Linked DNA regions of Homo sapiens: region 1 is linked to region 2. The links come from fine-mapping of genetic effects on gene expression. A gene starts in region 2. The other region holds a variant in brackets. All regions are shown on one strand. Distances are from middle to middle.

Evidence for each region.
Region 1: its variant is fine-mapped to the expression of LINC02122 in nasal epithelium (TOPMed, PIP above 0.99).

What each region holds. Positions count from the first base shown.
Region 1 is chr5:74,065,857-74,071,242 of GRCh38, reverse strand. The region is part of intron 2 of LINC02122 (long intergenic non-protein coding RNA 2122); the gene reads left to right. Among named protein-coding and RNA genes, the nearest start is that of LINC02122, 35 kb to the left of the region's middle. RefSeq lists an enhancer at 891-1,391. The variant GAA/A (reference allele first, on the strand shown) is at 3,354.
Region 2 is chr5:74,099,882-74,105,267 of GRCh38, reverse strand. LINC02122 (long intergenic non-protein coding RNA 2122) reads left to right here and starts at 2,140. Exons shown (of 3, transcript NR_183289.1): 1 at 2,140-2,528.

The DNA of each region.
Region 1 (5,386 bases), 34 kb after region 2:
CAGCCTGAGTGACAAAGCGAGACCCTGTCTTGGGGGGGCGGGGGGGGGAGAAAAAAACAATTAGGCCGTCCCAAATAATTCAAATTATATATTTTCTTAGGGCGTTGGGGAATCTTATATGTGGCATTATTTAATTAGAGCTCTGAAACAATAGAATGGAAAGAACAATAGATCGAACACTCCTACATTCCTGGAAATACATGGGAGTCTAAACTAGCTTATTCATCTCTTATGGGAAACATTGCAGTGGTTTCTAGGCAGCTGCCATGAACTTTTAACGCTTTCTGGCTGGCAAGAAGCCCCCTCCACCTACTGTACTGAAACAAAGACCTAGGGCCATATTGTACTTCTAAAGCTGTTAGGAAACATGAGGCTAAACAGGTGTAAGTGTTGCTTGTTTTCTGAATGCACTCAGAAGCCCAGTGCTCCCCTGTGCCAAGGGTGGGAGACTATTTATTGGTATGGAAAAGTACAGAGGAAAGAAAAAGAGATGAGGATTCCGAATCAGGTAGTTGTGTAGCCACCTCTGGTATATATTATCACAGTTCTCAGAGAGATGCCCTACTGACCTCTATTCTTGTCCTCACTTTATAACTTGTTCAAGAGCCTATGCATATTCTTCACTAAACAAATATATGTATAGATATAAGCACAATTATTTTAAAGAATTAGCTAAGAACATATGCAAACACATACAAATGTGGTAAGAGACTATAATATAATGATTAAGGGTGTCTCCTTAGAATTAAACTTAGTAGGTCCAAAACCTGGCTCTTCATATACCAGCATGGGACCATGTACTTCCTACATCTGCGCCTTAGTTTCCTCATCTATAAATGGGGAAGAAAATAATGCCTACCTCTGGAATCATTATAACCATTAAATGAAATACTGAGTAAAGTGTTTGACACACAGCAAACATACAATGTTAGCATTATGTGTGTCTACTTATCCATTGGTGATAGAATCCACAAGATCCATTTCAATTGTACATGCTATGCCTAGAGAAAAACACTTCCAACTGAGATAATCTCCTAATTGCCTCTTAATATTTTCTCTACTTTAAAGAGTATTTTTAAAAAATATTTAGTTTATTTTGATTACAAAAGTAAGTCATACTCAAGCTGGGCATGGTGGCTTGCATCTCTAATCCCAGTGACTTGGGAGGCTGAGGCAGGAGCATGCCTTGAGGCCAGGAGTTTGAGACCAGCTTGGGCAACACAGCGAGACCTTGTTTCTGTAAAATTTTTTTTAAGTTAGCCAGCATGAGTGTACGCTTGTTGTCCCAGTTACTCAGGAGGCTTAGCTGAGGATCACTTAAGCCCAGGAGTTTGAGGCTGCAGTAAGCTAAGATTGCACCACTGCACTCCAGCCTGGGTGACAGAACCAGACCTTGTCTCAAAAATAATAGTAATAGTAAAGTCAATCATGCTCAGCAAGAATACTTAGAAATAAAAGAGTTGAGATGGCCGTGCATGGTGGCTCACGCTTGTAATCCCAGCACTTTTGGAGGCCCAGCCGGGCAGATCACGAGGTCAGGAGATTGAGACCATCCTGGCTAACACGGTTGAAACCCTGTCTCTACTAAAAGTACAAAAAATTATCCGAGCGTGGTGGCACACGCCTGTAGTCCCAGCTACACAGGAGGCTGAGGCAGGAGAATCGCATGAACCCAGGAGGCAGAGGTTACAGCAAGCAGAGATTGTGCCACTGCACTCCAGCCTGGGCAACAGAGTGAGACTCCATCTCAAAAAAGAAAAAAAATCAATAAAATAAATCAATAAATAAAGATTTAAGGAAAACTAAAAATTACTATTATTCCATCAGTCAGACATAAGTAATAAAAAATTCACATTTTATGTATTCCTTCCTATATTTTTTCTATACATTTTAACCTGCTTGGGATCGCACTATTTATACAGTTTGTATGTCTTTTTTATACTGAGGATTATGAAATTACTTACAAGCTTCTCATTGGATATGACATATTGACCACATTTGTTCATATCTTCTCCTTTCTAAAATCCATTTAAGATGAGAGTAAAGGAGTTTAAAACATATACAATTACAGGGACAAAGAATGAGAGAAAGACAAGAGCAAGTAAGACTCTGCAATAATTTTTTAGGAGCTCATGGAGAAGCAATGTTATGATTTTTCAGAGCAGAGGCCACAACCCCAAGGTCTGCAGTGATAGATAGGCCAAGAATGACTATTTCACCCTACAGAACTCAGGAAGGCCCAGGACTTGGTGGCAGCAGGTATTACTGAGGGGTGGAATGAGATGCAGAACCAAATGCAGGAGGATTGGTTCATGTCTTAACGTGGAACTAGCTGGATTCTCAGCCCCCTCCTCTCCCGCAGGAAACCTGAAGTTTAGTCTCTAAATAAATTGAACCAGAGAAAATCTGGACTCAGAGAAACCAAACACAGAAGGGGAGGAGGAGAAAGAAACCTGGACATAAATTCAGAAGAATTAAGTGAAATTTTAGGTATGAATTAGACAAACCCTCCCTAGCTCTGTTCCTTCTGCTTCGAAACGCTAACAACTAAATATATACTCCCCAGCCCCCTGCAAAAACAAATAAAAAATGTCCCTGGAGAAAAAAACTTCAGATACTGATATTTGAGGGTCCCCCAACAACAAAAAAAGCCATCTTGTTACCACGTAATCTCCAGTTAAGGAATGACATGTCTAGCATATACACACGGGGCTTTCAACAAAGTTTTTAGTAGTTAGCTCTTAAAAATGAACAGAAAACCAAAGGTAATCTAACCAGGGAAATCCTCTGTGGAAGACGCTGCTAATGTTCTCTCTTCCTGGACACTCCACTAGAGTACATTGTCCAACCTCCTACATCTAGGTGAGGCCATAATGACTGGTTCTTCCCACTGGAATGTGAGCAGAGTGATTGGTGTCACTTCCAAGCCTAGCAGTTTAAATGCAAATATATTTTTTCACTTTGAGAAGATATGGCATCTGCAAACACAAATAGGAAGTAAGGTGTAAGGAAGTAAGGGATAAGAGCAATCAAGAACAGAAGGTCTTGGAAATCAGAAACATGAAGGCTGAATGTGAAATTCAACAGAAGCATTCTACCATAAAGTCAGGAGACTCTCCCAGAAAGTAGAATTAAAAGGCAAATAAGTAGAGGACAGAGAAAAGACAAGAAAGTTAGAGCATCAAATAAGTCCAATGCTTAACTAAGTAAACTTCCAGGAAAAACAGGAAAACGGGGGGAAATTTTTAAAGAAGTAATGAAAAAAATGAGTCACCAGATTTAAGAGGCTCATAAAATTTCCAGCACAATGAAGGCAAACACACCCAGGCCAAAAATATTGTTATGAAACTTGA[GAA/A]CACTGGGAACGAAAAGAAAAAAGCACCCATGGAGAAGGGGAACAGATCAGAACAGATCAGGAATGATATTTACACCAAATTTCACAACATCAATATCGGGAGGTAGACTATATTGAGGAAGGATTTCAAAATTCTGAGAAGAAATTATTTTCTACATATTCTATAACCATGAGAATGGAATAAACATTTTTAGACACACATTGCTTCCAAATACTTACCTTCCATGCACCCTTTCTTAGGAACTGCTAGAGGTTGTTCTTTACCAATGTGAAGGACTAATCGAGAAAAAAGAAAATGGGATCTCTAAGGGACCTAACACGAGGCCCTGGCAAAGGGAAGTGCCAGGTGGACAGCTGCCCCTCAGGCTGAGAGGGCCCTGGGCACAGAGCAGGCAGGTGAAGGACAGGGTGACAGGGAAGGGGTCTCCCAGGGAAAAATGAACTGGTATCTAATATTTGGGCTGTTTGGAAGATAATTAAGATCTGTTTTTTGTTGTTGTTGTTGTTTAAGAGATGAGATCTTGCTCTATCATCCAAGGTGAAGTGCAGTGGCACAATCATTACACACTGCAGCCTTGAACTCCTGGGCTCCAGCACTCCTCTAGCCCCAGTGCTCCAAGCAGCTAAGACTACAGGCCTTAGTCTGGTGGTGTAGCTAGACTACACCACCATGCCTGGCTAATTTTTAACAATTTTATGTAAAGATGTGGTCTCACTATGTTGCCTAGGCTAGTCTCCAACTCCTGACCTTAAGAGATCCTCCCACCTGGGCCTCCCAAAATGCTGGCATTACAGGCATAAGCTACCAGGCTCGGCCTAGAATTTCATTTTTTAAGTATATCAACAGGCACATAGAAAATTTAGCAAAATAATGTCAATGCAATAATTAGAAAAACATTCCACAAATAAGGAAATGTAAACCTTTCTTATTTGGTTTACTAACAAACAATATTTACACAGTAATAATGTAAACATTATCTTTTACTTAAATGAATAATTGTGACATAATTATTCAGAGAATTAAGGGGATGTCATGGGAAAAAAGATTAAAGAGAGCTAAATCTTTGTTTAGCATAATAGGAAGACAAGAATTAAGCCTCAGATTAACAAACCAAGAGAAGGCACTCTTGGTTTAGAAATATGAATGTTTCTGATAGTAGAGACTCAGGAGAGTTGTAAATGTCTGCCTCTGGGGGTGGCATAAACTGGGAGGGAGGAAGGATGGAGCATGAAGTTGCTGAGGTTTGCTATGAGACTTTGAATACAATTGAATTTTTAAAATACGTGTATTTATCAAATTTTAATTTTAAAAGTATTCATGAAATTTAACAGCTACATAATATCTTATCATAGGGTGAACAAATTTATATCCATACTTCTTTATTGACAGATATTTAGGTTGTAACTACAATGTACTTGTTACACATAGAAACTTTACTACAGTTTGGGTTGTTTCCTTAGAGTTGCTACAAATTGAATAATGAGAAAAAGAAGAGAGCATGGTACGATGTTTTATTTATGTATTTCCTTTTATTTCTTCTTACTTATATGTAAAATTATCTTATAAAATTGGGCTGCTAATCTTCACTTAGAGTGGGGCAGGGAAATGCCCACCTTACTGTGCTCTTTTAATATTCTTATTTATAAAAGTGAATTTAATAAATTAAAAAATGGTAACACTTGTTTTAAGTTCCATTTATTTTATTACTACTGAGCTTTCCAATCGTTTTTCCTCCTTTGCGAGTTTTCTGTTCCATTTCCTTTACCTATTGGTTTTTGGAATGTTGGTGTTTTGACTATCAAATTGTGTGACCCCTCTAAATTTGTTTAAAGCTCCAAATATTTCTTTCAGTTTATTGTATTCAAATTAGTTCTCTTTATGCTGTTTTTGACATGAAGATATTTTAACCTTTTTTGCAAGAAAATCTGTAATATTTTCTTATTTTTCTATCACTTTTAAATATGGCAATCCAGATGTTTGAAAAGTATAATATATTTCTTTGTATTTGATATGAGCTGAGTCTCTAAATT
Region 2 (5,386 bases):
CCGTGGTGGGACAGGCAGCAGAGGCCCTTTGGGGCCGAACTTGGATAGCAGAGGCAGTGACAGGCAGTGCCCCTAAGGTGACTCACAGATGGATGAAAATTACTCTTTGGGAAGTTCCATATGTATGTGGGGGATCTTGCAAGGTGCTGTAAGAACAGTCGGGGGCTTGCTGTTTCCAAAATACGGGCCGTAGTGGTCATGCCATTTCATTCAAATCCATAGATACAAACTGGTATGTTGAGGATGTTTGTGATATAAATGTGTGAATCATAGAACAGTTGGAAAGCAGTCATTTACTTATTTTAACAATATATATATACCTTTTAGAAATCTAAATATATTAGCAATTACACAGACATACACACACACACACACACACACATTCCAACAATGCATAGCCTGCAATTAAATGCAAAGGCATTTGCAATTAATTTTAAATTACTTACATATTAATGGATGGTTTTAAGATGATTGAGCACAGTTTGTCCTCAAGCATTTCAACATTTAAACATACTCCTTACCTCCCTCTAATCTTATTTGCACTGTTAATTTGCTTAGCAAATATTCTCTGCTAACATCATTTTTGTGTGTGCTCCTAAATTACGCAACTGTAAAGACTTAAGCTCTGCTCCAAGGTAAATGCCAGACAACTGGAAACCAAAGGAAGGTGTGTGTGTGTGTTGTGGGGTGCATGTGGCTCACCGTTTTCTTAGAAGAGACAGGATGTCCATTGTATTAGGGTTCTCCAGAGAAACAGAATCAATAGGAGACCTTACACACACACACACACACACACACACACACACACACACACACACACACACAGAGCTATTACGAGGAACTGGCTCACATGATTGTGGAGGCTAAGAAGTCCCACTGTCTGCTGTTTTGCTAGCTGGAGATTTGGGAAAGTTGGTGGTATAATTCAGATTCAGTCCGAAGGCCAGGAAACCAAGAGAGCAGATGGTATAAATCCCAGTCAGAGGGCAGGAAAAGATGAGATGTCCCACCCAAGCAGGCGGGCTGGGAGAAAAAAAGGTCAAATTTCTCCCTTCTCTGACTTTTGTTCTACTCGGGCACTCGGTCGAATGGATGGTGTCCATGCACTTTGGGAAGAGCAATTTACTGAGTCCACTGATGCAAATGCTAAACTCATATGGAAACACCCTCACAGACATACCCAGAAATACGGTTTAATATGGGCACCTATAATTCAGTCAAGGTGACACATACAATTAACCATCACATCCATCTAACATGGGCTGGCAAGGCATTGGTTAAATGAGGGTACAGCCCATGTTGGGGAGGAATGGAATCCTCCTGACTAGCCAAGGGCTTTAATCTTTAGTTCTCAACTCTGGCAGCACATCAGAATCACTATGGAGTGATTCGTGAATACGTCTGGGCCTGCGTCAGGAGCCGTGTGACCATCCTGCCTGGTCAGCCACAAAGTTACAATGCTTCCTTCCTGGGTAACCTGCCACCAGGAGCACATGGCACAGCAAGGCTTGGAAGAAGGTGAAACAAGGAAATCACCAGGCGTTCTTCACTCTTTACCTCTCACTCTTTGTTTTGACAATTTTGGCCTGCTGGCTACTTCGTATTTCTGTTTATGAAAAGAGGAAGTCTGACTCTGCCAAATAGGAAAGGAAGAATCGTAATTGTGTTATTGGTGGAGGGTCTTGACTACAACTTGTCCCAGTTCTTGGCGTTTTGAACCAAGAATTGGACAAATTAAACAAAGCAACCAAAGAATGAAGCAACAAAAGCACAGACTTGTGGAAACGAAAGTATACCCCACAGGGTGGGAGTAGGCGCCAGCGGCTCCAGAGCACTGGTTATAGAACGTTCTGGGGTTTAAATACCCTTTAGAGGTTTCCCAGTAGTTAGTTGGTTTACACCCTATGTAAATAAAGGAGTGGCCCACAACCAGTCTAATGGGTTGTGGAAGGTGACGAGTCAGACTGAAGTGAAGTTACCAAGTAATACCCTATGCAGATGTCTGATTGGTTGTAGGAAGGGGACCAATCAGAGGTACTTGCCATTTCTCATCTGCGATGCAGAAAGGGGTGCGGGTTGCAAAGGGAGTAGCCTCTGTTTTTTTGTTACTTAAGCATGGGAAGTTGGAGTTTTCCTTTTGATTCATTTCTAGGAAGTCGGTGCAAACTGGCCCTGCCTCCAGACCCTATTCTCCAGCATGAATTGCATCTCATCAATGTCATTTTCACTTTTGATGATGAAGGCTGATTACCTTGTAGAGAGAGAAGTCATAGGGATGTTATGTCCATGGAGCGTGGCCTTAAGTGGACCTATTTCTTGGGGTCTCCAGATCTGTTTGGAACTTCAAAATTATTCAAGAAAAGGTGTCTCATCAGCAGAAGACTGAACAGTTTTACCTAATGGTATCTTGAGTAGAAATGTAACCTAGAAGAGTTTATTGAAAATCCTCCTGGCTGATGCTTATTTCTTGGAATCCTGAGTCTTACACTTGCTACCTAATAAAAAGAAGGAAGATTCTTCTCAGCAAGGTTGGTTTTTTGATCCTTTATGACACAGAATTGGGAGTAACTGGGGAGAAATATAAAAGGTCTGAGACTAGATAAGGCTGGTGGAGGAATTGAGTGGTATTTCAATCAAGAAAGGGAGGGAACAGCTATATATACGAGAAAATGAAGAAAACAAAATGTTTACATTTTCTTTGTATTGAAATGTTGTCGTGTTCTATTACCCCTTTTGTGGTGTTCAAGAAACTCAAGTACAGATCTTGAATACCTTTGGCTGGACTTGCTTTATTGGCTACAGCTCTGCATTAAGACTGCTCCAGTAGGGTCACAGACTTATAAAAAGCTCTTCAGACTCTCTCAACCAAACAAATCCATGCACTCCATAGATTTGTTTTTTCAATCAATTATTTAGCCCTCAAGGGGTTTTTTATACTCATAAAGTGTAAAAAGTCATTTCAGATCCCTCTACTCATGAAGGAAGGGGAGGGGGGGAGGGAGGGAAGTAGAGGGGGGGAGGGAGAAAGAGATAGGGAGGGAAACAAGGAGGCAGAGAGAAAAACGAAACAATGAGGTTTTGACTTCCCTTGAGCCACTAGGCTGGAGTGCAGTGGTACGATCTTGGCTAACTGCAGCCTTGACCTCCCAGGCTCAAGCAATCCTCTCACCTGAGCTTCCCAAATAGCTGGGACCATAGGTGCACGCCATCACACCTGGCATATATATATTATTTATTTTATTTTATTTTTATTTTTTTTGTAGAGACAGGGTTTTGCCATGTCATGCAGGCTAGTCTTGAACTCCTGAGCTCAGGTGATCACCCACCTCAGCCTCCTAAAGTGCTGGGATTATAGCCATGAGCCACCATGCCTGGCCACAACCAGCTTTAAATAAGAGCTCTGGACAAGAATTAAGCTGGAATTCCCGAAAGCATCCATTGTATGTAATGAATTAGCTGTCTCTTAGGCATTTAGATTACTACCAGTTACTTAGAATTCAGAGAATTGAGAAAATAGTCAAAAAAATAATTTTCTGTGTTCTATGGTTCAGATGAGAGATATTATCTGAAAAAAAATCTAGTTTAGATCAGTTTCTTGACAGTGGCACTATTGACAATTTGGGCCAGATAATTATTTGTTGTGGAGGTTTCTCTGTGCATTGTAGGATGTTTGGCAGCATCCCTGGCTTGTACCCACTAGATGCCAGTATCTCCCTCTCCCTTTCTTTCTCACACACATACACAATCATAATAATCAAAAATTTCTCTAGATTTTTGCCAAATGTCCCTTGGGTGGCAAAATCCCCCCTAGTTGACTAGTCTAAATCCTTGCTGGTCCAGTAGGGTCATAGATTTATAAAAAGCTCTTCAGGCCATCTTTCAACCAAATAAATACATGCACTCCATAGATTTGTTTTTCCAATCAATTATTTAGCCCTCAAGGGGTTTTTTATACTCATAAAGTGCAAAAAGCCATTTCGGACTTTTTGCTGAATAATGATAGACATTAGTGTCTATCAGCTTGAGCATCTCCTGGGAAGCTTGTTGAAATTCTGGAATCTCATGGCCCACCTAGACCTTCTATATCATAATCGGCATTTTAACAAAATCCCCGTGTGATGTGCATACGCACCAAAGCCTGAGAGGCACCCCCAGTTTTGCAAAGGTCTGCTTGATTGAGCCCTGTTGAGAATCTATCATGAGCATACTAAAAGACAAAAGTATAACAAATTTGCTTTAAATATCTTAATTGGCTTTTATTTGCAATTCTAGAATCGGGCAACACCACATTCTATAAAATGAGTGTTCCCATGAGCTGAGTAGAGGAGGTGGGCTTTACAGACAGAAAAAGGCAGAAGAAAGCAGAAACAGTGAAAGGAAAAGCAGACTGGTTGTTTCAAAGTTATTTTCCTTGTATAGTTTAAACCCAGGGGACTTCTTTAGCTTGCCGGCTGAAGTGAACTGGGCCCCTTGAGATTGGTTGCTATGACTCTCCTGGCCTTTCTTTTTCTTTCTTTTTTCTTTTTTTTTTTAAAAACTGGCCTGTTTCAGAGCTCAGTTGGATCAGGTGGCACCTAGCATGAGTGACTCCATTCCCGTTTGGTCTGATTTGCGGGAGCCTAGCACAGGAGGCTAGTCCAAAACCATGGCCTCTTATGAATTTCATTTAACAAGCAAGATATCTTGGCATGCTGTGGGGATAAACTGATAGACATAATCCCAGGTCTCACTGAATAAGTCTGCACTTGTTCAGCTAAGCTAAATGTATTATATGATTCTCACACATGTCCATATGATCAAATAATATGTAGCCAAAAATTATGATGCAGATCTATATTTATTTACATGTATTGATGTTCATAACATATCTTGTTAAGTGAAAAAGCAGATTGCAAAATAGTATATATCACACAGTATGATCTGTTTTGCAGACACAAATTAATTCAAATTATATGTACATAAGAAATATATCAGTGTATATAAACATTCTTTAGCATATCTTGGAGAAAGATTATTGTTGATTTTTATCTTCCTTAAAATGTTTTCAGCATTTTTCTGAATTTTTACAATGAACGCATATTATTTTTATAACTAGAAAAGACAATTTCTTCAATTTTGCAAAAGACGGCCTTAACAGCTACATCTGCTCTGCCTCATAGTCTGTTCTCATAATAAAGAGGTCCAAGATTTATAAAATATGTCTAGAGTATTCCTTTTCTGGCTGAAATCCACCCATTTTTTCACCCAGAGAACAGGATCCAGATCTAAGGGTAGATATGATTCTATGATAGTCCCTGGGCTGGAGGCCCCTATACTCTCTGTGGTGGGGTGGGAGTGGGGGTTCAGAATGCTATAACATTTGATGTTATGGTTAGAGCTGGGGTGG